Homo sapiens: one gene and its partners. The protein of the gene in region 2 purifies or fractionates together with the protein of the main gene of each other region. This does not show direct contact. Each region holds a gene or a part of one and is shown on either strand. Other genes may lie near its edges.

Region 1 (7,749 bases), on a different chromosome or scaffold from region 2:
CAATTTTGTGGGAACACAGTTGAGTCCACAGCAGTATCTCTCAAAGAGAAAAAGGTTTTAATTTGGGTGAAAGCCAGATTATCATTTTTTAAGGGTCATTCTTTTCATAGCTACGAAATCTATACCTAACCAAAGATCACAAAGATTTTTACCTATATTTTCTTGTACAAATTGTATACTTTAGATGTTTTTATTTAGGTCTACAATCCACTTTGAGCTAATTTTTATATATGGTGCCAATTATAAATCAAGGCTTTTTGTTTACATTTATGTCAACTTGTTCCAGCACCATTTGTTAAAAATACTATCTTTTCTTTATTGAATTGCCTTTGCACATTTTTCAAAAATTAATTTATATATGGATATATACATATATATGGATCTATTTCCAGTCCATTTTGTTTCACTGATCTATATGTCTATGTTTTTACCAACACCATACTCTCTTGATTACTGTGGCTTAATCCTAAGTCTTGAAATCAAATGGTGTGAACCCTCTAAATGTTTTCTTTTTAAAAACTGTTTCTATTATTCTAGTTATTTGTGTTTCCATACCAATTTTAGAATCAACCTATCTATTTCTACTGGAAAGGGAAGCCTTCTGGTATTCTGATCAGGACTGCATTGAATCTATATAAATTAATTTGTAGAGAATTGATATTTTAACAATATTGAGTCTTCTGATCCATGAGTATAATATTTCTCTTCTTTTACTTAAGTATTTTATTTTCTTCAGCAACATTCTATCAATGAAAAGAGTCCAACTCTGGCAAACTACGCATCTGACAAAGGACTAGTATGCAGAATCTACAAGGAATGCAAACAAATCAGCAAGAAAAAAACAAACAATCCCATCAAAAAGTGGGCAAAGGACATGAATAAACATTTATCAAAAGAAAATATACAAACAGCCAACAAACATGAAAAAATGTTCAACATCACAAGCATCAGGGAAACGCAAATTAAAACGTGAGATACCACCTTACGCCTGTAAGAATGGCCATTACAAAAAAGTAAAAAAACAATAGATGTTGGCCTGGATGTGAGGAAAAGGGAACACTTTTACACTGCTACTGGAAATGTAAACTAGTACAACCACTATGGAAAACAGTATAGACATTCCTTAAGGAACTAAAAGTAGAACTACCATTCAATCCAGCAATCCCACTACGGAATATCTACCCAAAGGAAAATAAGTCATTACATAAAAAACACACATGCGGCCGGGCTCGGTGGCTCACGCCTGTAATCCCAGCACTTTGGGAGGCCGAGGCAGGCAGATCACGAGGTCAGGAGATCAAGACCATGGTGAAACCCCGTCTCTACTAAAAATACAAAAAAATTAGCCAGGCGCAGTGGTGGGCGCCTGTAGTCCCAGCTACTCAGGAGACTGAGGCAGGAGAATGGCGTGAACGTGGGAGGCGGAGCTTGCAGTGAGCCGAGATTGCGCCACTGCACTCCAGCCTGGGCAACAGAGTGAGACTGTCTCCAAAAAAAAAAAAAAAAAAAAAAACACATGCACATATAGCAGCACAATTTGCAATTGCAAAGACATGGAACCAACCTAAGTGTCCATCAACCAACGAATGGATAAAGAAAATGTGGTATATATACACCATAAAATACTACTCAGCCATAAAAAGGAACAAGATAATGTCTTATGCAGCAACTTGGATGGAGCTGGAGGCCATTATTCTAAGTGAAGTAACTCAGGAATGGAAAAGCAAATATTGTAAGTTCTCACAAGTGGGAGTTAAGCTATGAGGATGCAAAGGCATAAGAGTGATACAGTGGGCTTTGGGGACTCGGAGGGGAAAGTTTGGAGGGGAGTGAGGAATAAAAGACTACATATAGTGTACACTACTCAGGTGATGGGTGCACTAAAATTTCAGAAATCACAGCTAAAGAACGAATCCATGTAACCAAAAACTTGAAATTAAAAAAAAGGAAGAAGTCAAACTCTGTAAAATAGTTGAAGGGATGTATTCTGAGCCAAATATGAGTGACCATGGCCTGTGACACAGCCCTTGGGAGACCCTGACAACATATGCCCAAGGTGGTTGGGGAGCAGCTTGGTTTTATACATTTTAGGGAGACATGAGACTTCAATCAAATACACTTAAGATACAGATTGACCATTGGTTTGGTCCAGAAAGGCGAGACAACTTGAAGTGGGGCAGGGGTTCCAGGTTATAGGTAGATTTAAATTTTTCTGATTGGCAATTGGTTGAAACAGTTATTATCAATAGAAAGGAATGTCTGGGTTAAGATAAGACGTTGTGGAGACCAAAATTTTATCATGCAGCTGAAGCCTCCAGGTAGCAGGCTTCAGAGAGACTAGATTGTAAATGTTTCTTATCAGACTTAAGGTCTGTGTTAATGTTAAATGCTAGTTGGCTTTTCCTGAATTCCAAAAGAAAGGTGGCATAATGAGGCATATCTGACCCCTGCTCTGTCATGGCTTCAACCAGTTTTTCAGGTTAACTTTGGAGTGCTCTGGCCAAGAGGAAGGAGTCCATTCAGATGGCTGGGGGTGGAGGTGCTTAGAATTTTATTTTTGGTTCAGTTTTATAGTCTTCTGTATACAAGTGTTCCATATCTTTTGCTAAATATATTTCTAAGTATTTTATGTTTTTTATGGTATTATAAATGGTATTGTTTTAAAAATTTACTTTTCAATTGTTCATTGCTAATATATAGAAATATAATCAATTGTGTATATTAACCTTGAATCCTACGACCTTGCTAAACTTATTTCTTCTAATGGCTTTTTAATTAATTCCTCAGGATTGTTTTAAAAAAAAAAGACGGTTACTTATTCCTTTCCAATTTAACTACGTTTTATTGATTTTTAAATTTTATGAGTTGTGCTAACTAGAATCTCCAGCAACATGATGACTAAACGTGCTCAGAGTGGATACCCTAGCTCCTCCCAAATCTTGTCTTTCACCAAGATAAGGCTAGGCTAGTGCTATGGCTGCCATAACAAAGTATCAAGCCATAACAAAGTATCAAAGATTGTGTGGCTTAAATAACATAAATTAATTTTCTCACAATACTGGAGGCTAGAATTCTAAGATCAAGGTGTCAGCAGACTTGGTTTCTTCTGAGGCTGCTCTCCTTGGCTTGTAGACGGCTGCCTTCTCCCTGTGTCATCATACAGTCTTCCAATAGAACACAGTCTGGGTTCTAATCTCTACTTCTTGCGAGGACACCAGTCATAACATTAGAATAGGGCCTACCCTAGTGGCTTCATTTTAACTTGATCCTGTCTCCAAATGCTGAGGTACTGGGGGATAGGACTTCGACATAGGAATTTTGAGGGGACACAATTCAGCTCAAAACAGTCATTAAATATGATGTTAGCTGTAGGTCTTTGTAGATGCCATATATCATGTTAAAGTTTCATTTTATTTCTAGTTTGCTCAGAGATTTTGTGGAGTTTTTTTAATCACAACTGAGTATCGGATTTTATTAATTTTTTTCTGCATCTATTGAGATGATTATATGTATTTCCTTTCTCCCTCTGTTAATATGCTGAATTACATTGGCTTTTCAAATATTAAGCCAACCTAGTATTTCTGGGATTAATCTCATTGTTCAATATATTATCCTTTTTATATACTACCATTTTTTGAGAAGATATTGTAAGTACCTTTGTAATGAATGTGAATGTTGATAGTGAGGAGAGATGCTGTGAAAAGCTTAATACCCATTTAGTATAACATGGAGAGTAAGCATATTACTTAGAAATAAGTAGGCAAATATCAGAAATACAGTTCAAAGAGTTAAAAGTGATTGTTTCTGAAAGTAGGAGGGTCAGGTTGCTCTTGTTGCGGTTTTTGCACCATTTTACTTCTTAAAATTATAGCTATAGGTCAGGCGCAGTGGTTCACGCCTGTTATCCCAGCACTCTGGTAGGCCCAAGTGGAAGGACTGCTTGAGGACAGGAGTTGGAGATCAGCCTCGACAAAAGACCGACAGCCCACCTCCACAAAAAAAAAAAAAAGAAAGAAAATTAGCTAGCTTGGTGAAAATTAAAATAAAATAAAATTACCAGTATGTGCACATTACTTTGGTAGAAGTAAAAATAATGAGAAAGAGAGAAAACCCTCCCAGTAACTAGTCATTTGTTTTTATGATTCAGCTGGTTTGTATTTTGCATGGTGCATGGTGTGCAAACATCTGAAAATGTCTGTTTTCCACTGTTTGTAACTAACTCTTCCCAGCATGATTTATCAATTAGCCTTTATTTCCTCCCATGACTTATGAATATACCTTAAGCATAGTTGTTTATAATGGGATGTTTCTAAACGACCTATCCTTATCCTGGTACCACGCTGATTTGAGCTACAGGGCAAATGGGTGCACCATGGTGGGCGAGGTCATTCACGGAAAAAAGAATGTGCAGTGGTGCCGAGGTTGGTAAGAGCAGGCGGCTTGTACATGTAAATGCATGGTTTGCAGGAATCTGGGAGTGGATAGGCTGACGGGTGATGAATATTCAAAGCACAACTGTAAGCGACTTTAGTTACAGCGAAACTCTAAGGCACGCTGCCCTTCGGAAGGAAACACGGCATTCCCCAACCTGATAGCCCTCCGCGACGCATTACGCACCGCGGACAGCTGGAGAGGCCGAGGCGCTCTCGCTTTGATTTCGGCGCCTCCGCCCTCGCGGGGAGAGATTGGCTGCGGCCGCGGGACGGGGTAGTGAGCGCGTCACTTCCTGCCGCTGCCAGGCGCGTCCTCCCGCGCGCTATGACGGCCAGCGCACAGCCGCGCGGGCGGCGGCCAGGAGTCGGAGTCGGAGTCGTGGTGACCAGCTGCAAGCATCCGCGTTGCGTCCTCCTGGGGAAGAGGAAAGGCTCGGTTGGAGCTGGCAGTTTCCAACTCCCTGGAGGTCATCTGGAGTTCGGGTGAGCAGCCGCGGACGCGAGGAAACCGGGGCGTGCGCAGAGGGACGAACTCACGCCGTGCTTGCTTCCGTGTGCCGTGCGTGAGAACGTCCGCGCTGACGCTGCGTCCTTTCTTGCGCGTTCCCTCGGTTCCTCCCCTCGACTTCTGGGCGACGTAGGATCGCGCCCAGGAGGGGGCGCTGTGCTGGGTCAGGCGAGGTCTTTGCTAGCTGGGTCTTTCCGGCTGCGCCCCTGCTGGGTGGTGGTTGGGAGTTCGTCTGTGAGGTGTGTTTCTCACAGCTTACACACAAAAGGAGGAAAGCAGGTGTGTGTAAACCTCCAGCAGCCCGATATTGTCAGCTAAGACATTGCACCGTTTCCATGTGATTGATTGATTGATCGATTGATTGATTTGAGACTGTGTCTCGCTCTGTAGCCCAGGCCAGAGTGCAGTGGTGCTATCTCCAGTCACTGCAACCTCCGCCTCCTGGGTTCAAGCGATTTTTGTGTCTCAGCCTCCTGGTAGCTGGGATTACAGGCGCCCGCTACCACGCCGTGCTAATTTTTGTATTTTTAGTAGAGACGGGGTTTCGCCATGTTGGCCAGGCTGGTCTCGAACTCCTGACCTCAGGTGATCCACCCGTGAGGTCAATGACCATAGCCAACATTGAGCTCTAATGGGCTTTTTGTTAAAGGCTGGATAATATGCCAAGCTCTTTGCATGTATACTTTCATTTGATCTTTACATAACTGGCATACTCAGTGGGCTAAATTTGATGGGAGAACAAACAGGAAATGGTTTTATTTTCTCCTTCCACTGCCTTCAAACATGATTTTTTCTTTCCCTCTTCAGTGACGTTTCCTGCAAATTCTATAGTTTTCTTGTCACTTGGTTATAAAAATAAATCACATTTGGGTCAGTATGATTCACTTCCAAGCATTTAAAAGTCCAATCCAATTTAAACCTTCAGTGTCACTTCCAGTTTCTAATCCCTCCCCTGCAGTGCATAAAGGAGGTGTGAGCCATTGTTCTGCTTTTCTGTATCCTCCTCCTCTTCTCACCTGGCTGTCTCTGAGTTTCCTTCTTTCTCCAGTGTGTTGGAGGAGGAGAGAGAGCAAGCCATTCAGGTGACTGATGCTGCTCTGATCCATCCATTGGTGTCCTCTGGGCATGATATCCACATGTGTGCTTTCTCAGGGTATGTTTGTCAGTTGTTGGGAAGTCCCACAGAGATTTTCCTGACATAGGTGACGGGCTTTCTGTGATGCTGGCCCACCTCCTAGCTCTTGCTTTTAGCACATCACCCCACATTTTCTTTCTACTGGGATCTCCTATTTGATTACCCAGCAGTCTCTTGTGGCATCTGCTTGGCCCAAAGGAAACACACAATGGGAATGATATTTCCACTGCTGCCCTTTTTCCTTGCTCTACCTCTGTATTCATCTGCATCTGGAAACTCCGAGGGACACATTTCAGATTTACCCAAGAGCTTTCACCCTTGTAGCACACCTTTTCTGATGCACTGGGGTAGGCCTGTGAGTTTCTGCAGCTCAGGATGTCTTTAGCAGGGGAGTGACACACTGAGTATCTCCTTCTTGAGTCACTCCCAATCTTGTGACTGATTCTCTTGGAATGTTCCTCACCTGTCTTGGGGGGGCAGAGTTGGCCCCTTGTAGTCTGGAAGGGAAATGCTCCTACTAGGCTGAAAACTCCAAACTTTCCTCTGTCTCAAACATCTCCTTTTTTTTTTTTTTTTTTTTTTTTTGAGACGGAGTCTCGCTCTGTCACCCAGGCTGGAGTGCAGTGGCGGGATCTCGGCTCACTGCAAGCTCCGCCTCCCGGGTTCACGCCATTCTCCTGCCTCAGCCTCCCAAGTAGCTGGGACTACAGGCGCCCGCCACTACGCCCGGCTAATTTTTTGTATTTTTAGTAGAGACGGGGTTTCACCGTTTTAGCCGGGATGGTCTCGATCTCCTGACCTCGTGATCCGCCCGCCTCGGCCTCCCAAAGTGCTGGGATTACAGGCGTGAGCCACCGCGCCCGGCCTCCTGTCTTTCTTATGTAGCCTGGATACGGAGAAGTCACAGGTCTAGTCTGGCCTTCCTTAGCTTGAGCTTGAGCTCAGATGACATCTGTTTGCCCTTTTGCTTGAGAATTTAGAAGTGCTTTTTACCTATTGTCTTCAGTTTTGAGGCTTAAATTGAAATTCTGAGACTGCTGGAAAAGACATAGTGGCACTTCTTGATACAATTACAGTGACCCCATGAGGAAGTAATATAATCTCTTTTTACTTGTCCAAGGTGGAAAGTAATGAACTTTGAGCTCAATCCCAGGTCTAGTTGACTCCAAAGTCTGCTCTTAATGCACTAAACTGCCTCCTTGTTACACACAGGTTCCAGGGCTGTAAATTAGTGCTGAGATGGCTAAATGTTAATTTTTATTCAATATTAAGTCCTTTTCATCTTTAGATAACTAGATACAGGATATAATGTCAAGGGCAAGGTTGCTGATTTACTGGTTTTAAATCTTTATCTTTTTAATTAATTATTATTACTATTTTTTGAGACAAAGTCTTGCTGTTTGTCCAGGCTGGAGTGCAATGGCACCATCATGGCTCACTGCAGCCTTGACTTCCCAGGCTCAAACTATCCTCTTGCCTCAGCCTCTTGAGTAGCTGGGACCACAGACCATAGGCACGCACCACCATGCCCGGCTATTTTTTTTTTTTTTGAGAGATGAGGTCTCACTATGTTGGCCTCAGCTGGTCTCCAACTCCTGAACTCAAGCTGTCCTCTTGCCTCGGCCTTCCAAAAGATTACAGACATGAGCCACATGCCCAGCTGATTTGTTGTT
Region 2 (7,056 bases):
CCCCAAACTGCTCACAGGCAAACCCACCCTGCATGCTCTGGTTTCTCCTCCTCTTCTTCCACCTCCTCTCACTGTCTAGTGATTCTTCCAGGCACGAGGGCTCTCCCCTTTTCTCCTCTTTCTCTCCCTCTTTTTCGAGCCCGCAGCCCCTTCATTCTCATCCCCCAACCCTGCCCCGCAAAATGGGACTTAAGAGTACACACCCCATGGGACTCATGGAGGTGAGGGGGGTCCAGGAAAGGAGAGGCCGAGGGAAAAGTGCTAATCCCCCTCTCCTCCTCTCTGCTGCCCTGGGTCCTGCTGAGGGGCCGGGGTGGGGCTGGGGGGGGAACCAGCCCCCCAAGGGGTGACAACCTCATGACTTCTCCTGGATCCCTGGGCTCTTTGGCAATGGTGGGAACCCTCCCCTACCCGCCCACACGACTCAGGGATTGCTCCCAGCCTGGCAGACATTCTGCCTGTCCCCACAGAAAATCACAGACAGGTGCTTCCACCACTCTGAGTGCTACAGTGGCTGCTGCCTCATGGACTTGGACTCCGGTGGAGCCTTCTGTGCCCCCAGGGCCAGAATAACCATGATCTGCTTGCCCCAGGTGAGGCCCTAGTATGGGGCAACTTCTGGCAAGTAGAGAAGCGGGCAGGGAGGTTAAAAAAAAAACACCTGGCCCCACCTGTTTTTTCACCTCTGTCTGGAGTGCCCTTCTTCTTCTCCACTTGGCAAACTCCTACTCATGGTGCAAAACAACTCCAGCCACCTCCTCTGAGAAGGCTTCCCTCCTTGGAGCTCCTGTACCCTGGGGTCAGACCCTCAGCAGACCATGTATCTCCCTAACTGGCCATGTCTTTTCTCTGCCTCTCCCAGTGGTTGGAACTCTTCAAGGGCAGGGATCGCATCATATTCATCTATGAAGCACCTACCCCCAGCTTAGTATCTGCACATAGTAGGTGCTCAATAAATGCTTATTGTTGTTTGTTTGTTTGTTTCGAGATGGAGTCTCGCTCTGTCACCCAGGCTAGAGTGCAATGGCATGATCTCGGCTCACTGCAACCTCTGCCTCCTGGGTTCAAGCGATTCTTGGGCCTCAGCCTCCCGAGTAGCTGGGATTACAGGGGTGCACCGCTATGCCTGGCTAATTTTCGTATCTTTGGTAGAGATGGGGTTTTGCCATGTTGGCCAAGCCGGTCTTGAACTCCTGACCTCAGGTGATCCACCTGGCTCGGCCTCCCAAGGTGCTGGGATTATAGGCATGAGCCACCGTGCCCGGCCAATAAATGCTTGTTGAATGAATGAATATCTCTTCTCTCACACCACTGAGGCAGGGTAAGTAGGAAATGACCTTCCCCTTACTAGTCCCCATCTCCCTGCCACAGTGACATGATTTCTTGAGAGGAGCATGGCACTGCAGTGGCAGGACCACAGCTTTGCAGTTGGACCTGAGTTTAAATCCTGACTTTTCCACACCCTATCTTTGTGACTTCAAGCAGGTCATCATGGCTCTCTGAGCCTTAGTTTCCTCATCTACAAGGAGAGGCTAAAGTACCTACCCCACCAGGCTGTTGGGAAGATTATGTGGTCCTGGCAAGGAGAGTGTGCAGTCCAGCATGGTTGTCACTCGCTTTTAGGAATGCAGGGAGCAGAATGCTCAGTACGCCCTGTTCCTGCCCACCTGGCCCTGGGCCCAAACCTTTCTAGGATGGATGGACCCAGCCTCTATGTCCCTGTGTGGGGAGTTGCCAATGCCCTAAGGAAGCAGCAGGGCCCCTACCATGGCCTGACCCTATAGCTGAAGTGGCTAGAGGGTTTTTATTTTTTTTATTTTTTGAGACAGAGTTTTGCTCTTGTTGCCCAGGCTGGAGTGCAATGGCGTGATCTTGGCCCACTGCAACCTCCACCTCCTGGGTTCAAGCAATTCCTCTGCCTCAGCCTCTGGAGTAGCTGGGATTACAGGCATGTGCTAATTTTTATATTATTAGTCCATGACCATGTTGGCCAGGCTAGTCTCAAACTCCTGACCTCAGGTGATCCACCCGCCTCGGCCTTCCAAAGCGCTGGGATTACAGGGGTGAGCCACCGCGCATGGCCTAAAGGGTCTTTTTATTATCACCACTTGATCTGCTCTATCTCATTTAGTCCTCACAACAACCCTATGAGGGGGGTTACTATTACTGTCCCCATTTGACAGATGAGGAAACCGAGCTGGAGAGGTTCATTGACTTGCTGAAGGTCACGCAGTTATAAGCTGTAGAGACAGCCCAGGTCTGTCTTACTCCAGGCCTGGTACTCTTGGTTCTGGTCCCCAAGAAGTTTAAGTCCCCATCCTTCCTGCATCCTGGTGACTCCCGATTCTCATACCCACTCCCTGCAGACCAAGGGAGCTACCAACATCATCTGCCCTTGCCGGATGGGCTTGACGTGCATATCCAAGGACTTGATGTGTTCCCGCCGGTGCCATATGATTTAGAGGAAGATGCAGGCTGGTCACTGCTCCCTTGGGGCCATAGGCCCTGGTTGCCACCAACTTGCTCCAAATCCAGCTCCTGAGACATTAAAGTCACTTCCTGTCCTTGGCCTCTGTCTGTACTTTCTGGGCGAGGGGACCTGGTGGAGATTGTACCAGTCCAGGGGGCAGGCAAAAGGGGAGACTGGAGGCATGAATGAGCTTCTAATGGGATTTGGCCCTGTCCGGAGGTCAGGGTAGAACTGCAGGAAGGGAATGGCACAGGGAGGGTGTGGTGGAGCAGGGGCTGGGTCTGGGAAAGGGCTGATTCTCTGGTTGGAGGGCTGTGTGGGAGAGACGGGATTGAGGAATGTACCTGGAGAGTGTATGTTGGGGTGCCTATGGAGGGGTGTGTGGTAGGGAGAGACTAGGTGGAGGTATCTGAATGTTTTGCGGGGCGGGTTGTGGGGCACAAAAGGGTAGAGATCATTAGAGAGTTGGTGAGAATGTGCAAAGTATAAATGCAGAAATGCCTGTGGTGGGAAAGGGACCTGGTGCATGGATGCCTCCGCTCTCTCAGGTATTGTCGGTTCACTGCATGGACAAAGAAACTGAGGCCCAGAGAAGCGACATGACTTGCCCTAGGTCATATCATTGGGGTAGCAGTGAGGCCTCTTTCTGCTGCAAGTATCTTAAAAACCAACTCAAATTGGTCTAGGTGAGGAGGGGATTTACTGGTGATGGGAAATGAAAGTCCAGAGGTCAGGCAACCCTTAGGTAGGGCCAGAGCCAGCAGCTCTCAGGCTGAATTCCTTCCCAGTAGTCACAAACATTCCAGGTGTCACCTAATAACAGGTAGGATTTATTGAGCACTTCCTATGTGCCAGACACTGTGCAAAGTGCTTTCTTTTTCATTTAATTAAAAAATTTAAGACAGCACCCAGGCTGGAGTGCAGTGGCTCGATCGCAGCGTACTGCAGCCTCAACCCCCTGGGCTCAAAAGATCCTCCCACGTCAGCCTCCCAAGTAACTGGGACTACAGGTGTGTGACACCATGCCCGGCCAATTTTTTTTCTTTTTCTTTTTCTTTTTTTTTTTTTAATAGAGACAGGGCCTCACTGTATTGCCCTGGCTGGTCTCAAACTCCTGGGCTCAAGTGATCCTCCTGCCTCAGCCTCCCAAAGTGCTGGGATTACAAGCATGAGCCACTGCGCCTGGCCCAAAGTGCTTTCTTAACTGTATTGACTCATCTTTTTGTCACAACAGGGCTATAGTAGGTGTTATAATTATCCCTATTTTACAAACAGGGTATCGAGGCTCCTAAAGTAAGGGTTGGAACTGAGACTTGAACCCAGACAATCCTGCCCCAGAGGCCAGGCTCTTAACCACAAATCCACCATGTACATCAATACTGTGCCTTTCAGAGAAAGAAAACATCTCTGTTCCACAATTTTCAGCAAACATCCTAAGATCGGTTCTGATTGGATTGGCTTAGTCTGCCTGAACTAATTATTGTGGTGGAATTTGCTGATTGGCCTAGCCTGAGTATTGTGCAGGATGGGAAAATTCTGACGGGGTTGGGTGCTGGTTTTACATGGTGTTCCCACAGCTGGGAGGACACCCACATGGTCGGCGTGCAGGATATTTCGCTGGACCCTAGAAAAGCCACCACGACCTGTGGGCCATGATGCTACCCCAATGGCTGCTGCTGCTGTTCCTTCTCTTCTTCTTTCTCTTCCTCCTCACCAGGGGCTCACTTTCTCCAACAAAATACAACCTTTTGGTAAGAAAGCTGGAGAGTGCAGTCACCTCCCCCTCCACTGTCCTAAGGCCTGTACTATTTGGGGAGGTGAGCGGGCATGGGGGCTAGTGTGGGAGAAGGCCAGAAGTGGGGGCAGCAGGGAGTGTTGGGTGGAAGATGTCTCGGAGGAAAGAGAGAACAACCTGGTCCTGGAAGCTGTGCCAGGGCAGTGCCAGGTGCTGCTGCCACAGAGGTGAATGTGAGAGAGCCCCCCTGCCCATGCGCACATGTGGTAAGGGAGACAGATATTCACTCATGCAACACATTTTTATTGAGCACCTACTATATGTAAATTATTTTTCTACATTTAGTGATAGGGCTGTGAGCAAGAAAGATAAAAATCCTTGCCCTTGTAGAGCTGTCACTCTAGTGTGTGAGGCAAAGAAGTAAAACATTACAATAGATGCTATTAATAATAGCATCTATCTCAGGTGATAAGCAAGGAAAGGGAAAATAAGAATCGAGCTGTGGGAGTGGTGGTGTGAGAAGGGTTTGCAGGTGTTTTTTTTTTTTTTCTTTTTCTTTTTCTTTTTTTTGGGACAGAGTCTTGCTTTGTCACCCAGGCTGGAGTGCAGTGGGGCAATCTCGGCTCACTGCAAACTTAGCCTCCTGAGTTCAAGCGATTCCCCTGCCTCAGCCTCCCGAGTAGCTGAGATTACAGGCACCCACTGCCACGCCCAGCTAATTTTTTTTTCTGTATTTTTAGTAGAGACAGGGTTTCACCGTATTGGTCAGGCTGGTCTTGAACTCCTGACCTCAAGCAATCCACCCGCCTTGGCCTCCCAAAGTGCTAGGATTACAGGCGTAAGCCACCGCACCTGGCCAGGGTTTGCAGTTTTAAATGGGGTGCTCAGGGAAGAGTTTACTAAGAATGTGAAATTTTAGCAAAGACCTAAAGGGAGGGAAGTCCTTCCTAACCGGCAAAGCAGGGGGGTCTCTGGGAGAAGAGCATTCAAGGTGGAGGGAACAGCCAGGGCAAAGGTCTGGGGGCGGAAATGTGCTGGCATATTCAAGGAATAGCAAAGAGGAGTAAGAGAGAGTGGAAATCATGGGAGATGAGCTCAGAGAGATAAATGGAACACAGTTACAATATTCTCATTTATTCAACAGTTATGCATTCAGCACCTGCAATGTGTAAGGACTTTAGTCCAAGGGGGCTAAGAAATATAGCAGTGAACGTGAGAGCAGAAGATCCATGTCCCAGAGCTGAGGTTGCTAGCGGGGGAAATAAATTATTTTTAAACATATAAATAAGATGATTTCAGAGAGTCATAAGTGTTGTGAACAAAGTACAACCAGGTGATGGGGACTGCTCTGCTGGTGTCCAGGAAGTCTTCAGCCTGAGGCAGGAGGGGGAGGCAGCCGGGCAAAGAGTGCAGGACAGGGTGCTCTGGGCAGAGGGCCAGCAAGCGCAAATGCCCTGGGGCCAGGCCAGGTGTGGATTCAGAGCCCCAGTGATGGCTTTGAATCCAGAGAATGGCATTGTGGGAATTATCTTTTAAAAAAGACTCCTCTAGCTATTCTGGGAAGAACTGACTTGAGGAGGTTGGGGAGGTGGAAGTGAGAGTGGGGATGGTGAGGGGGTACCTGGGGGAGGTCACTGGCAAGGATGGAAGCAGGGAGGCCGGGAGGCGGCTATAGCCAATCCTCCTTTCCTGCCTTATTTTCTTTATAGCACATAATCGTACATAATAGGATTATACATATATAATATAAATATTACTTATTGTTATGTATATAACATATGTGGTAAAAATCACACCTTACTAGGTGCTCAGATCTTGAGTTTACATGGAAATCAATGGATTCGAACCTATGCAGACCCCCTCATCACTACCGTCAGAACAAGATATAGGACATTTTCATTACCCCAAAAGCCTCACTCTTACTCTCCTAGTCAATAGCACCAAAGGCAACTGTCTCCTGACTTCCATTATTATAGATTAGTTTTGAACTTTGTATGATGAAATCACACAGTATGTACTTTTAAAAAAAAATTTGGGCCAGGCGCAGTGGCTCACGCCTGTAATCCTAACACTTTGGAAGGCCGAGGCAAGTGGATCACCTGACGTCAAGAGTTCGAGAACAGCCTGACCAACATGGTGAAAGCCCATCTCTACTAAAAATACAAAATTAGCTGGGTGTGGTGGCACATGCCTATAATCCCAGCTACTTGGGAGGCTGAGGCAGGAGAATTGCTTGAACCCGGGAGGCAGAGGTTGAACTAAGCCAAGAAAGTGCCATTGCACTCCAGCCTGGGCAGTAGAGTGAGACTTTGTCTCAAAAAAAAAAAGGGGGGCTGGGCGCGGTGGCTCATGCCTGTAATCCCAGCATTTTGGGAGGCCGAGGCAGGCAGATCACGAGGTCAGGAGATCAAGACCATCCTGGCTAACACAGTGAAACCCTGTCTCTACTAAAAATACAAAAAAAATTAGCTGTGCGTGGTGGCGGGTGCCTGTAATCCCAGCTACTCAGGAGGCTGAGGCAGGAGAATGGCGTGAACCTGGGAGGCACAGCTTGCAGTGAGCCGAGATCGCACCACTGCATTCCAGCCTGGGCGACGGCGAGACTCTATCTCCAAAAAAAAAAAAAAAAAAAAATCTGACTTATTTTGCTCAACGTTTTTTCTGTGATACCGTATCATTTCACTTATGTATCTCTTCCCTGTCTTCCCTCTCTAGAGCTGTGTGTGTCCAATAGTGCAGTTACTAGTGTGAACCCAAAATATCTGAGACAGGTCTCAGTCAATTTAGAAAGTTTATTTTGCCAAGGTTAGGGACACACCTGTGATACAGCCTCAGGTGGCTGGGGTGCACC
Region 3 (7,026 bases), on a different chromosome or scaffold from region 2:
AAAAAGAAAAAAATTAGCTGGGCATGGTAGTGCATGCCTGTGATACTCAGGAGGCTGAGGTGGGAGAATCACTTGATCCCGGGAGGCAGAGGTTCTAGTGAGCTGAGATCACGCCACTGCACTTCAGCTTGGGTGACAGAGAGAAACTCTGTCTCAATAAATAAATAAATAAATAAAACACTTTCATTCAACAACTATTTGCTGAGTCCCTACTATGTGCTAGACATCACCAAGTACACAGGATACAGATCTCTGTAGATTCACTGCTGTCTATATGAATGGCTGTTAGCTGAATTGTGCAGTACAATCTGTATAGCACAGCAGCCCTGTAAGACCACTGTAAACTAGCAGGGCCGAAACTGCAGGCTCCACAAGGATCTTAAGGAGTTCACAAATTCCCATGCATATCAAGTACACTCTGTACACAATAATATCTTGATATTTTTAATGCATAATAGATGTTAGACTTAACAGAGTATCATTTTAAAATATTACTGAATTCCTACTGGACCTGCTTTTTGCTTTTTCTCCCCCACAATTAATATGTTCTGAAAGTATGTTACTGTCCTGTCTCTCAAGGTTTTCAGTGTTAAAAAGGTATCTTCACAGGGTCTATTGTCTCAGACAATAGGGAGGAATTTAAAACTTCTGAGTAGGAAGACCAAGGCAGGCAGATCACTTGAGGTCAGGAGTTCGAGACCAGCCTAGCCAACATAGTGAAACCCCATCTCTTCTAAAAAATACAAAAATTAGCCGGGCATGGCAGTGGGCGCCTGTAGTTCCAGCTATTCAGAAGGCTGAGGCAGGAGAATCACTTGAACTCGGGAGGCGGAGGCTGCAGTGAGCCGAGATCGCGCCACTGCACTCCAGTCTGGGTGGCAGAGAGAGACTCTGTCTCAAAATAAAAAAAATTCTGAGTAGGAAGAGTGGCACGCCTCCAGTCTTTTCTCATTCCACCCTTGCCTAGTTACTATACAATTTCTTTTTCTTTCATTTATGAGCCTGAAAAATCTTAATCACAATTACTTAGTGTGAGAATAATACTTGTAGCATTAAGTTTGTCAAAGAAATACTTAAGTGCTGAAGACATATTGTTCTTCAAAGTGCTTTAGAAAAGTGATTTGGGCCGGGCACGGTGGCTCATGCCTGTAATCCCAGCACTCTGGGAGGCCGAGGCAGGCGGATCACCAGAGGTTGGGAGTTCGATACCAGCCTGACCAACATGGAGAAACCCCTCTCTACTAAAAATACAAAATTAGCCAGGCATGGTGGCACATGCCTGTAATCCCAGCTACTAGGGAGGCTAAGGCAGGAGAACCGCTTGAACCTGGGAGGCGGAGGCTGCGGTGAGCCGAGATCGCGCCATTGCACTCCAGCCTGGGCAACGAGAGAAACTCCGTCTCAAAAAAAAAAAAAGTGATTTGGACCGGGCGCAGTGGCTCATACCTGTAATCCCAAAACTTTGGGAAGCCAAGGCGGGCGGATCACCTGAGGTCAGGAGTTCAAGACAAGCCTGACCAACATGGAGAAACCCTGTCTCTACCAAAAATACAAAAATTAGCTGAGCACGGTGGCACATGCCTGTAATCCCAGCTACTCGGGGGGCTGAGGCAGGAAAATCGTTTGAACCCGGGAGGTGGACGTTGTGTTGAGCCCAGATTGCACCATTGCACTCCAACCTGGGCAACAAGAGCGAAACTCCATCTCAAAATAAAAGAAAAAGAAAAAGAAAATTGGTCAGAGAGTGTGTACAATTTTGTGGTTCTTGAACTCATACTGCCAAATCACTTTTTTTTTTTTTGGAGCCAGAGTTTCACTCTTGTTGCCCAGGCTGGAGTGCAATGGCGCGATCTCGGCTCACTGCAACCTCCGCCTCCCAGGTTCAAGTGGTTCTCCTGCCTCAGCCTTCTGAGTAGCTGGTATCACAGGCATGCGCTACCACACCCAGCTAATTTTTTATTTTTTATTTTTTTTTGAGATGGCAACAGATTGAGACTCTTTAAAAAAAAAAACCTTTTATTCCATTGTTAATAATGACTATTTCTACCGCTTATTAAATATACTTTAAGAGCTAGTTTTAGGACCTATGAAAAAAGCAGTGTTTTAGCCAGCATTTCCCAATTCATCTACAGGCTCACATCATTACATTCAATATTGATGTCTGCCGGGCTCATGGCTTGACATCCCAGCACTTTGATGGGCTGAGGCAGTAGGATCACTTGAGCCCAGGAGTTTGAGACCAGCCTGGCAACATAATCTAGACCCTACCTCTACAAAAATAAAAAAAATTAGCTGGGCATGCTGGCATATGCCTGTGGTCCCAGCAACTCAGGAGGATGAAGCAAGAGATCATCTAAGCCCAGGAGTTCATGGTTATAGTGAGCTATGATTACGCCCCTGCACTCCAGCCTGGGCCACAGAGCAAGACCCTGTCACTATGAAAAAACAAAACAAAAAAAAATTATGTCTATTTCAATTTGTATATTTTTGAATATTTAATAATTATCTAAAATTTTCTCCTTTATAAAAATAGAATAGTTTGAGAGTATCCAACAATTTATCTACTGAATGTGTGTCAATTAGTGGGAATTAGGAGAATGGCTCATGATAAAGTCATTGCATTGTTATAACTTAATCTGAACACTGAATGCAGTAGCTTTTCTTTGTATAACAAACTGTTAAAGACAAGAAATATAAGTACATTGATGATGAAATACAAGAATGAGTACATTTATCTGATCATGATTCTTAAATGATACATCAAGATATCTCTGATTGATTGATTGATTGATCTTACAGTGTCTTGCTCTGTTGCCCAGCCTGGAGTGCAGTGGTGTGAACCCTGCTCACTGCAGCTTCAACCTCCTAGGCTCAAGCAATCCTCCCACCTCAGCATCCTGTGTAGCTGAGACCCCAGATGTGCGCTAATTTTTTCATTCTGTGTAGAGATAGGGTCTCACTATCTTGTCCAGGCTGGTCTCGAACTCCTGGGCTCAAGCAATCCACCCACCTTTGTCTCCCAAAGTGTTGGGATTATAGATGTGGATTACAGGCGTGAGCCACCATGCCCAGCCTCACAAAAACTATACAAAAAATATACTCTTGGAAATCATTAAGCATGACCTCTAGAACAAACACATTTAATAAAAAAGAATAAAAACTAACATTCTATTTAAGAGATATTACTATTATTTTGAAATCAGGGAACCTATAAAAGGTTTGATATACAAATTTTACCACAGAGTAAAATCTGATAAAACTTTCTCAGTAACTTAAGATAATTTTACGTACAGAAATTCAATGCAAGATACTCTGAAAATGACTAGAATGATGATCCTACAGAGAACTAGCTGAGGCTTGTTTGTAAATTTTACTGAAATAGGAAATAATTCTGTCTTTGTATACAATTGCTTCCACGCATGAGCTTTATCTAAGGAAAATAACCTCCTATGTTGGGTTAATAATTTTTTTTTTTTGAGATGGAGTTTCACTCTTTTTGCCCAGGCTGGAGTGCAATGGCTCGATCTCAGCTTACTGCAACCTCCGCGCCCCCCGGGTTCAAGTGATTCTCCTGCCTCAGCCTCCGGAGTAGCTGGGATTACAGGCACCCGCCACCACGCTCGGCTAATTTTTGTATTTTTAGTAGAGACAGGGTTTCACCACATTGGCCAGGGTGGCCTTTTTTTTTTGAGACAGAGTCTTGCTCTGTCGCCAGGCTGGAGTGCAGTGGCACAATCTCGGCTCACTGCAACCTCTGCCTCCCGGGTTCAAGCGATTCTCCTGCCTCAGACTCCTGAGTAGTTGGGACTACTGGTGTGTGCCACCACGCTCAGCTAGTTTTTCTATTTTTAGTAGAGACGGGGTGTCTTTTTTTAACCTCTGTAATCACAGTGTCTCAATCTCTTGACCTCGTGATCCGTCTGCCTTGGCCTCCCAAAGTGCTGGGATTACAGGCGTGAGCCACCACACCCGGCCAAATTATTAATTTAGAATTTTAGTCAGCTAATAAATTATATGTCTAATAATAGGGGGAGATACAGAATGCCACTAGTGTTAATATTTAATCTCTGTATACAAGATATAATTTTCTTTTAAGCAAGAAGGAAATTTAGTAAGATTTCCCTCCTATTGTAGGACATTTCTCCACTTGTGCTTCTGAATAACTCTGATTCATACTGGCCTGAGACTGCTCAGACTTATGGTTCAAAAGCATAAGCTTGGAAGGGATTTCAATTTATTTATTGATTCCCCTACACACATCCTTTTTCAAGTTTCAAGAACACATTTACTGATACTAATAATAACTTCCATCTTTTTAGTTCAAAATGTCACTGTCATAAGAAAAAAATAGGCTGGGCACGATGGCTCAGGCCTGTAATCCCAGGACTTTGGGAAGCCAAAGTGGGCAGATCACGTGAGTCCAGGAGTTTGAGAGCAGCCTGGGCAACATGGTGAAACCCCATCTCTACAGAAATACAAAAATTAGCCTGGCGTGGTACTGCACGCCTGTAGTCCCAGCTGCTTGAGTTGGATGAGGCGGGAGGATGGCTTGGGCCTGGGAGGTCGAGACTGCAGCAAGCCGTGGTTGCACCACTGAACTCCAGCCTGGGTGACAGAGTGAGATCCTGTCTCAAAAATAAATAAATAAATAAAAGCTATTAGTGTTGCTGCTTAACCATCCCATCTAAAATAGTTGCCCTCTCACACACACACAATATCACTTTATATCTTAGCCTGGTTTATTTTTTCTTAGTATTTATTATATAACTATTGTCATTATACATTTATAGGTGTATTTATTGTGTATCCCCTCCCTGTACCCCATGTCTTTTTTTCACTTCTGTAATCACAGTGCCTAGAACATCACCTAGCCCTTAGGAGCTGGTCAAAAATCATCTCTTTATCAATGATTTTTATATTCTGGACATGGAAAGAGACTCTAATCAAATAATTACAGTAAGAAATATAAAATTCCTGTTGCTATGTATTCTATGAAAAAGTGCTACATAATAAAGAGGAGAGTGACCTAGGTTTTTTGGACAGCGTTTCCCTGAGTTCCTTGAATGGAGAACTCCAGGATATGTTAGAGTTAGGCAGGCAAGAGAGAGTATCACCACAGGTCATTTGCACATGCTGCTCCTTCTGTCTGGACTCTTTTTTTTTTTTTTCTTTTTTTTTGAGATGGAGCCTCACTCTGTTGCCCAGGCTGGAGTGCAGTGGCACAATCGCAGCTCACACTGCAGCCTCCACCTCCCGGGTTCAAGCAATTCTCCTGCCTCAGCCTCCCGAGTAGCTGGGATTACAGGCACCTGCCACCATGCACAGCTTATTTTTGCATTTTTAGTAGAGACGGGGTTTCTCCATATTGGTCAGGCTGGTCTTGAACTCCTGACCTCAGGTGATTCACCCACCTCGGCCTCCCAAACTGCTGGGATTACAGGCATGAGCCACTGCACCCAGCCTATCTGGACTATTCTTTACATAACTCCTACAATTTAATCCCTCAGTTCTCTACTTGAAAGTAAGACCCTCTGCAAAGCTACTCCTAACTATTCCATTCCATTATTCCACAACTTCTCTTTTCTTTCCTTTCTATTTTTTTTTTTTTTTAATGAGGTCTCGCTCTGTTGCCCAGGCTGGAGTGCAGTGGCATGATCATAACTCAATGCAGCCTTGAACTGCTGGGCTCAAGTGAGCCTCCCACCTCAGGCTTTAGAGCAGATGGTACTACAGGCATGCACCACCATGCCCAGCTATCAACTTGTCCTTTTTCAGCACACTCAAGATATATTAAAACTCTTCACATTTAAAATTACTGTATGAAGGCTGGATGCAGTGGCTTGTGCCTGTAATCCCAGCACTTTGGGAGGCCAAAGCGGGAAGATCCCTGGAGGCCAGAAGTTTGGTACCAGCCTGGCCAACACAGGGAGATCTCTTCTCTACACAAAAACAAAAAATCAGCTGCACATAATAGAGCACACTTGAAGTCCTAGCTTTACTTGGGAGGCTGAGCTGGAAGGACTGCTTGAGCCTAGGGGTTTGAGGCTGCAATGAGCCGTAATCACGCCGCTGCACTCCAGTCTAGGCGGCAGAGCCAGACCCTATCTCAAAATAAATAAATAAATACATAATAAAATAAAATTACTCTATATACATGAGATGAAAAATGCCAGAGGTCACATCTATTTTACTATCTGTCATTTCCCCAGTGTCAACACAGTCAAAGACACTCCAAAAACATTATTAGATTAATTAAAAGTAAGGACTATGTCTTAGACCAGTAGTTCTCAAATTGTGGTTCACAGACCAGCAGCATCAGCATTATGTGGGTTTTGACAGAAATGCAAACTTTTGTAGTAGTTCACGTCTATAATTCCAGCACTCTGGGAGGCTGAGGCAGGAGGATCACTGGAGCCCAGGAGTTTGAGGCCAGCCTAGGCAACATGGCGAAACCCCATCTCTGCAAAACATATAAAAATTAGCCAGGTGTGATGATGGGCACCTGTGGTCCCAGCTACTTGGGAGGCTGAGGTGAGAGGATCGCTTGAGCCTGGGAAGTCAAGGCTGCAGTGAGCTGTGATCATGCCACTGCACTTCAGCTTAGGGACAGAGCAAGACCCTGCCTCAAAAAAAAAAGAACTGCCACCTCTCAGGCCCTGCCCTCAGTTCACTGCAACCTCCACCTCCTGGGTTCAAGTGATTCTCCTACCTCAGCCTCCCGAGTAGCTGGGATTACAGGCATGTGCCACCACACCCAGCTAATTTTTGTATTTTTAGTAGAGACGAGGCTTTGCCATGTTGGCCAGGCTGGTCTCGAACTCCTGACATCTTAAACATCTCAACTATTCAAACACAACCTAATTAACATTTAACAAATATAAAATACAAAGCTTTATAATAATCATTCATTCAACTGTATTTATTATCTACAAAAATATTGCACGAGAAAGTGGCCTCTACTGATAATTCCTAGCTCAAAATAAGCTAATATTCTGCCTTCTCCTCACCTCTCCCATACATACACTG
Region 4 (6,582 bases), on a different chromosome or scaffold from region 2:
ATTTCATTAACAAGTATAAAACATAAAAGGCAGACCAGGAAAAAACATTTGCAGCACATATAAACAGGCAAAGGTTTACTGTCCATAATTCTTTAAGTCAAGAAAAAGACAATCTTAGCTGTGCATGGTGGCTCATGCCTGTAATCCAGCACTTTGGGAGGCTGAGGTGAGCAGATCACCTGAGGCCAGGAGTTCAAGGTCAGCCTGGCCAACATGGTGAAAGTCCATCTCTACTAAAAATACAAAAATTAGGGTCGGGCACGGTGGCTCACGCCTGTAATCCCAGCACTTTGGGAGGCTGAGGCAGGCAGATCACGAGGTCAGGTGATTGAGACCATCCTGGCTAACATGATGAAACCCCATCTCTACTAAAAATATAAAAAATTAGCCGGGCATGGTGGCGGGCACCTGTAATCCAAGCTACTCAGGAGGCTGAGTCAGTAGAATCGCTTGAACCCAGGAGGTGGAGGTTGCAGTGAGCTGAGATCACGCCATGGCAACAGAGCGAGACTGGCAACAGAGCGAGACTCTGTCCTTCCCCACACACAAAAAAAAAAATTAGGCCTGGCACGGTGGCTCAGGCCTGTAATCCCAGCACTTTGGGAGGCCAAGGCTGGCGGATCACAAGGTCAGGAGATTGAGACCATCCTGGCTAACATGGTGAAACCCCGTCTCTACTAAAAAAAAATACAAAAAATTAGCCAGGCACCGTGGTGGGCACCTGTAGTCCCAGCTCCTCGGGAGGCTGAGGCAGGAGAATGGCATGAACCTGGGAGGCGGAGCTTGCAGTGAGCCATGAACCTGGGAGGCGGAGCTTGCAGTGAGCCGAGATCACGCCACTGCACTCCAGCCCGGGCCACAGAGCGAGACTCCGTCTCAAAAAAAAAAAAAAAAAAAAAAAAAATTAGCTGGGTGTAGTAGTATCGCACACCTGTAATCCCAACTACCTGAGTGGCTGAAGCATGAGAATCACTTCAACCCAGGAGGCAGAGGTTGCAGTGAGCCAAAAATCACACCACTGTACTCCAGCCTGGGCAACAGAGCAAGACTGTCTCAAAGGAAAAACAGTCATGTAGAAAAATAAGATGAGAATATAAACCAGCAATTCCTAGAAATAAACAAATATAAAATAGACTCTCTTTCACCTCGTGGTTTACTACATCATATTAAAGTAATTGGGATCTGCTGATGAAAAGATAGCATCTTGAATATTTAAGTTCTATCATCTTAACCCATTGTTTTCATAAATAAAATTAGTAAAGTTATCTCACCTCATAGTTATTGGATAGTAGTACATCATGGGGTTTTTTTAAGTTTTTGTTTGTTTGTTTTGTTTTTAAATAGAGCTGGGGTTTCTCAATGTTGCCCGGGCTGGTCTTGAAATCCTGAGCTCAAGCTTTGGCCTTCCAAAGTGAGGGATTATGGGCGTGAGCCACCGCGCCTGGCCTAAAGTATTTTTTATTTCAATAATAATATATGTCTGTTGTAGGCCAGGCGTGGCGGCTCACACCTGTAATCCCAGAACTTTGGGAGGCCGAGGCGGGCGGATCACAAGGTCAGGAGTTTGAGACCAGCCTGGTCAATATGGTGAAACCCCATCTCTACTAAAACTACAAAAAATACAAAAATTAGCTGGGTGTGGTGGCACGTGCCTGTAGTCCCAGCTATTCGGGAGGCTGAGGCAGAAGAATCGCTTGAACCCAGGAGGCAGAGGTTGCAGTGAGCCGAGATCACACCACTGCACTCCAGCCTGGGCGACAGAGTGAGACTCTGTCTTAAAAAAACAAACAAACAAACAACAACAACAACAACAACAAAATATATATATATATGTATATATATCCATTGCAGAAAACTTCAAAATATAGAAAAGTGCAAAAAAGAAAAAAAAAAATCACATAATTTTACCACCTGGAAAGAAATACTTTTTGTTTCCTTCCCATTCTACAAAAAGCCATGTAAAGAAACATTTTTACAAGTTGTTTCCATATTAAAATTTTGAAAATAAAAATGGCAAAAAACTTTCGTAATGTTTTATAAATTTTCTCCCCACTTAATAATGTCATGTTGATTAATATTCTAATACATTGTTAATGACTGCATTATTACATTGTATGGGCAGTCAATCATTTATTTAACCAATCCTCTGTTGTTGAACATTGAGGATATCTTTTGAATGTGTTATCTCTATATAACAAATAATGTGCATATGAATGTGTCCGTGTAAAGGAGAACTTGTAGTTCATTGAATGTGTCTAGGTCATGATTAGAATAGGCAGAGTTGTGCTGTATCAGGGAAAATAAGGGTACTGCTATTGATAAGAGCCCATTTTAGGTATAAAGATAACTGTAACAGCTGGGCACGGTGGTCCACACCTATAATCCTAGCACTTCGGGAGGCTGAGGTGGGTGGATTGCCTGAACTCAGGAGTTCGAGACCAGCCTGGGCAACATGGTGAAACCCCATCTGTACTAAAATACAAAAAAAAAAAAAAAAAAAAAATTTAGCCAGGCGTGGTGGCGTGCACCCGTAGTCAGCTACTTGGGAGGCTGAGGCAGGAGAATTGCCTGAACCTGGGAGGCTGAGGTTGCAGTGAGCCAAGATGGTGCCACTGCACTCCAGCCTGCGACAGAGCAAGACTGTCTCAAAAAAAACAAAAACGAACAAAATAAAGATACCTGTAACACCCATTTGCCTTCCTACTCAGAGCTGCCATACTAGCATCATTCCTAGGTGAGATTTTTTTTCCCCCACACATCTGTAGCCTCCAGAAATAGATCAGAATATTTTAGGCACCTTTACTTTAAGCTATTTTCCCATCTCCTATTCCTTCCTGCTTCTGGCTTCTCATTATGGCTGGTTTTTTGTTTGTTTTGTTTTGTATTTTAAAGAGCTTAATAGTGATCCTGGACCAAGGAATCTGTGTGTTTACTTTCTGTCAGAAAGCATCTCCATTGTGTTGTGTAAAGTAGCCTGTATGACCATTTATATCACCTCTTTTATTTGACAGATACAGAAAATTGAAGGATTAATATCATACCGAGACCCTCATTTTTGGCGTCATTCTGCTAGTATTGTGGCAGGAACAATTCATATACAGGTGACATCTGATGTGCTAGAACAAAGAATAGTACAGCAGGTAATCTTTTGTTTTTAAAGTAATTTTAATTGAGGTCATTCATACCCAAAATTGTACACCTCATAAGTTATATGGCTCAGTAGTCATTTACTATTCAGAAATATCAATCTTCCAACTCTTTTTTTTTTTTTTTTTTTGAGACAGGGTCTCACTCTGTTGCCCAGGCTGGAGTGCAGTGGCGTGATCTCGGCCCACTGCAACCTCCGCCTCCTGGGTTCAAGCAGTCTCCCTGCCTCAGCCTCCCAAGTCGCTGGGATTATAGGCACCCGTCACCATGCCCGCCTATTTTTGTTTGTTTGTTTGTATTTTTAGTAGAGATGGGGTTTCGCCATGTTGGCCAGTCTAGTCTCAAACTCCTGACCTCAGGTGATCCGCCTGCCTCGACCTCCCAAAGTGCTGGGTTTATAGGCAAGCCATCATGCCCGGCCTAATCTTCCAAATCTGTAACGGTAATATAGCTTACTTTTTACATCTAGATTTGTTTTATATCTAAAAATTGCTAAAATAAATGAAGTTTTGTGTTTAGAGGATAAGCTTTAATTAATATAAAAAAATTCATTTATGAGTTTGATTAATCTTGGTTTCCAGTAGATTATCAAAAAATAAGTTATTATAAATATATTCCTAAATTAGTAATAATCAACTTGGCAGGGTATATGCTATGTTTGGAGATAGAGGTCAGAATAGTTACTAAAGCCCTGTTCTAGATGTGCCAAATTGGAAACAATGGCTGTTTTCCTTTTCTACTGTGAATGTCAAATCAGTAATTTACTGACCTAAAAGAGTCTAATATTTTAACTAACTAAATGATGAATATTACTTCGAAGATTTATCTTGGACTACTGTAACTGTTTGTTTGTTTGTTTACTCATTCATTTTAGAGACAAGATCTCACTATGTTGCCCAGGCTGGTCTCAAACTCCTGGGCTCAAGCGATCCTCCTGCCTCAGCCTCCCTGGGCCACTGTGCCTGGCCTGTAACTATTTTAAAAATGTGACACAGGTTTAATATTCCTTATCTAAAATGCTTGGAACCAGAAGTGTTTTCGATTTGCGATTTTATTTTTTTTAATACTCGCATTACGCTTACCAGTTGAGCATCCCTAATCTGAAAATCCAAATCCAAAATGCTCCAATGAGCATTTCCTTTTAACACCATCTTGGCACTCAAAAAGTTTCAGATTTTAGAGCGTCTCAGATTTCGTATTTTCAGATTAAAGATACTCAACCCGTATCAACTATGTACAGCATATTAAGACGTGTGTACTAAATGCATTACTCTAAATGCTTCAAAATATCTGGATTTTTATAACAGGTTACAGGAATACTTAAAGATGCTGGAGTAAACAATTTAACAATTCAAGTGGAAAAGGAGGCATACTTTCAACATATGTCTGGCCTAAGTACTGGATTTCATGATGTTCTGGCTATGACAAAACAAATGGAATCCATGAAATACTGCAAAGATGGTACTTACATCATGTGAGATAACTCAAGAATTACCCCTGGAGAATAAACAATGAAGATTAAATGACTCAGTATTTGTAATATTGCCAGAAGGATAAAAATTACACATTAACTGTACAGAAACAGAGTTCCCTACTACTGGATCAAGGAATCTTTCTTGAAGGAAATTTAAATACAGAATGAAACATTAATGGTAAAAGTGGAGTAATTATTTAAATTATGTGTATAAAAGGAATCAAATTTTGAGTAAACATGATGTATTACATCATCTTCAAAAATAGATATGATGGATTCTAGTGAAGACCAAAATTACTTCTGTTTACTTTCTATCAGGAAGCATCTCCATTGTAAATATGTATTTACATGTTTATTACAAAGACCCAAATGAAAAATTTTTAGTCCATTTTTTGCATAGCCTAAAGATAAAATAGGAATAAAAGTTCTATATTTATGGATTTTCTGTATATAAAACTGGTTTCTAATTATAACTTAAGTCCATTAAGTAAAATCTGTATTGCCACTTTAAATGTAAACTAAATTATTTGGGAGAAACTTCAACCACTGATATGAGATAAGCAATGAGAATAGGGAAGTGTATAACATCACAGTTTTTGATGTATTACAAAAATCAACCACTCTATAAAATAAATTTTTTTTACTTTTGGTAATATTTGCAAATGAATAATTAATTTATTAGGGTAAAGAACTTATACTAAGTTGTGTCCATGTTATTCATTTACTTACCATGTTCCTTTAAAGTAGAATATTTCCTTTCTTGTTATATATTTGACATTCCAAGCTGCTTATCAAGCTGGTATCCAAGCAGTGGTAAGCTTTCATCCTTTCTTAGCTCCATAACGTTGTGAAACAGCCAGTTAAGAGAATCGTAAATAATTGTCAACTCACAGTTGAATTCTCTGCCTATGTAGGTAACTTTTTTCTAATTTCTGGAACATATAGATATATAAGAAATATCAAAGAATAGGTAGTTATTTCAAAGTTTAATAAGTAAAACTTGTTCATAAACATTTGAGCACCATGAAATCAAAATACCCTATAACTACTTTCTATAGTCATATCTAATTTATATTTTTTTCATTTCCAGTTGTAACTAGATATGTAGTAAAGTCTGAAAAGACTTTACCATAGACAATAACATGCAGTTTTATCAGCACCAAAGAATGTTGTCCAAAAGAAACTTTTTAATACCTGTCTTTCTATTTATAACATCTGAATATTTTCATTCTTATATTAAGAATTTTGATAAGTAGATTGAATTTAGTATGAGTACTATTTTCTTATATATACCACAATGGCAAACATGTATTATAAATCATATTTTTGTCTTACCAATTTTAATATATGAGGGGTTTTAGAAATTTGTTGTAAGTTATTTTTATATTCCTTGTCTTTTGCATATTTTTTGGCCAAAATCTTCAATACATATTAAAATTTTTGAGTGGTGGGAAAATAATTGCATATTGATGTTTTAATGCAATTTTTATACATTAAAAAATTAAGTAGATAGGTGCAATAAATATTACACCAAAGTTAAAATTGTCATTTCCCTTAGAAGACATATAAACAGCAAAAAAATTAATGTGATTGTGAGATATTAGAGTGAGAGAGAGCAGGGGCTGAAGGTTGGGGAGGTACAATTATAAAGTATGGAAACTCTAATATTGAAAGCACCAGGGTACTGTATTTCAGCTCATGCAAATCATGCAACTAGGCCAGGTGCAGTGTCTCTTGCCTGAAATCCTGGCACTTTGGGAGGCTAAAGCAAAAGGATAGCTTGAGCCCAGGAGTTTGAGAACAGCCTGAGCAACATAGCAAGATTCCATCTCTACAAAAATTTTTAAAAATTAGCTGGGGCATGGTGGCACATACCTCTTGGGAGGCTGAGGCAGGAGGATTGCTTGAACCTAGGAGGCCAAGGCTGCAGTGAGCCATGATGGCACCACTGCTCTCCAGCC

The links.
Region 1: the proteins of CLPSL1 (region 2) and NUDT15 purify together in Homo sapiens (affinity purification with mass spectrometry; 3 studies listed by BioGRID and IntAct, with this or other methods). This does not show direct contact.
Region 3: the proteins of CLPSL1 (region 2) and ZYG11B purify together in Homo sapiens (affinity purification with mass spectrometry; 3 studies listed by BioGRID and IntAct, with this or other methods). This does not show direct contact.
Region 4: the proteins of CLPSL1 (region 2) and SLC30A5 purify together in Homo sapiens (affinity purification with mass spectrometry; 3 studies listed by BioGRID and IntAct, with this or other methods). This does not show direct contact.

What each region holds. Positions count from the first base shown.
Region 1 is NC_000013.11:48,032,989-48,040,737, forward strand, and holds the start of NUDT15 (nucleotide triphosphate diphosphatase NUDT15), read left to right. Parts: upstream 1-4,737; 5' UTR 4,738-4,758; coding exon 4,759-4,916; exon of another isoform or gene 4,917-5,004; intron 5,005-7,749. UniProt on the Homo sapiens protein: May catalyze the hydrolysis of nucleoside triphosphates including dGTP, dTTP, dCTP, their oxidized forms like 8-oxo-dGTP and the prodrug thiopurine derivatives 6-thio-dGTP and 6-thio-GTP.
Region 2 is NC_000006.12:35,776,989-35,784,044, forward strand, and holds the start of CLPSL1 (colipase-like protein 1 isoform 1 precursor), read left to right. Parts: upstream 1-4,030; 5' UTR 4,031-4,122; coding exon 4,123-4,221; intron 4,222-7,056. Other genes in the region: CLPSL2 (colipase-like protein 2), read left to right, coding at 471-593, 863-941, 2,367-2,542.
Region 3 is NC_000001.11:52,729,427-52,736,452, reverse strand, and holds part of ZYG11B (protein zyg-11 homolog B), read right to left. Parts: intron 1-7,026. UniProt on the Homo sapiens protein: Serves as substrate adapter subunit in the E3 ubiquitin ligase complex ZYG11B-CUL2-Elongin BC. Acts to target substrates bearing N-terminal degrons for proteasomal degradation with the first four residues of substrates being the key recognition elements.
Region 4 is NC_000005.10:69,124,993-69,131,574, forward strand, and holds the end of SLC30A5 (proton-coupled zinc antiporter SLC30A5), read left to right. Parts: intron 1-3,011; coding exon 3,012-3,140; intron 3,141-4,454; coding exon 4,455-4,625; 3' UTR 4,626-6,077; downstream 6,078-6,582. UniProt on the Homo sapiens protein: Together with SLC30A6 forms a functional proton-coupled zinc ion antiporter mediating zinc entry into the lumen of organelles along the secretory pathway.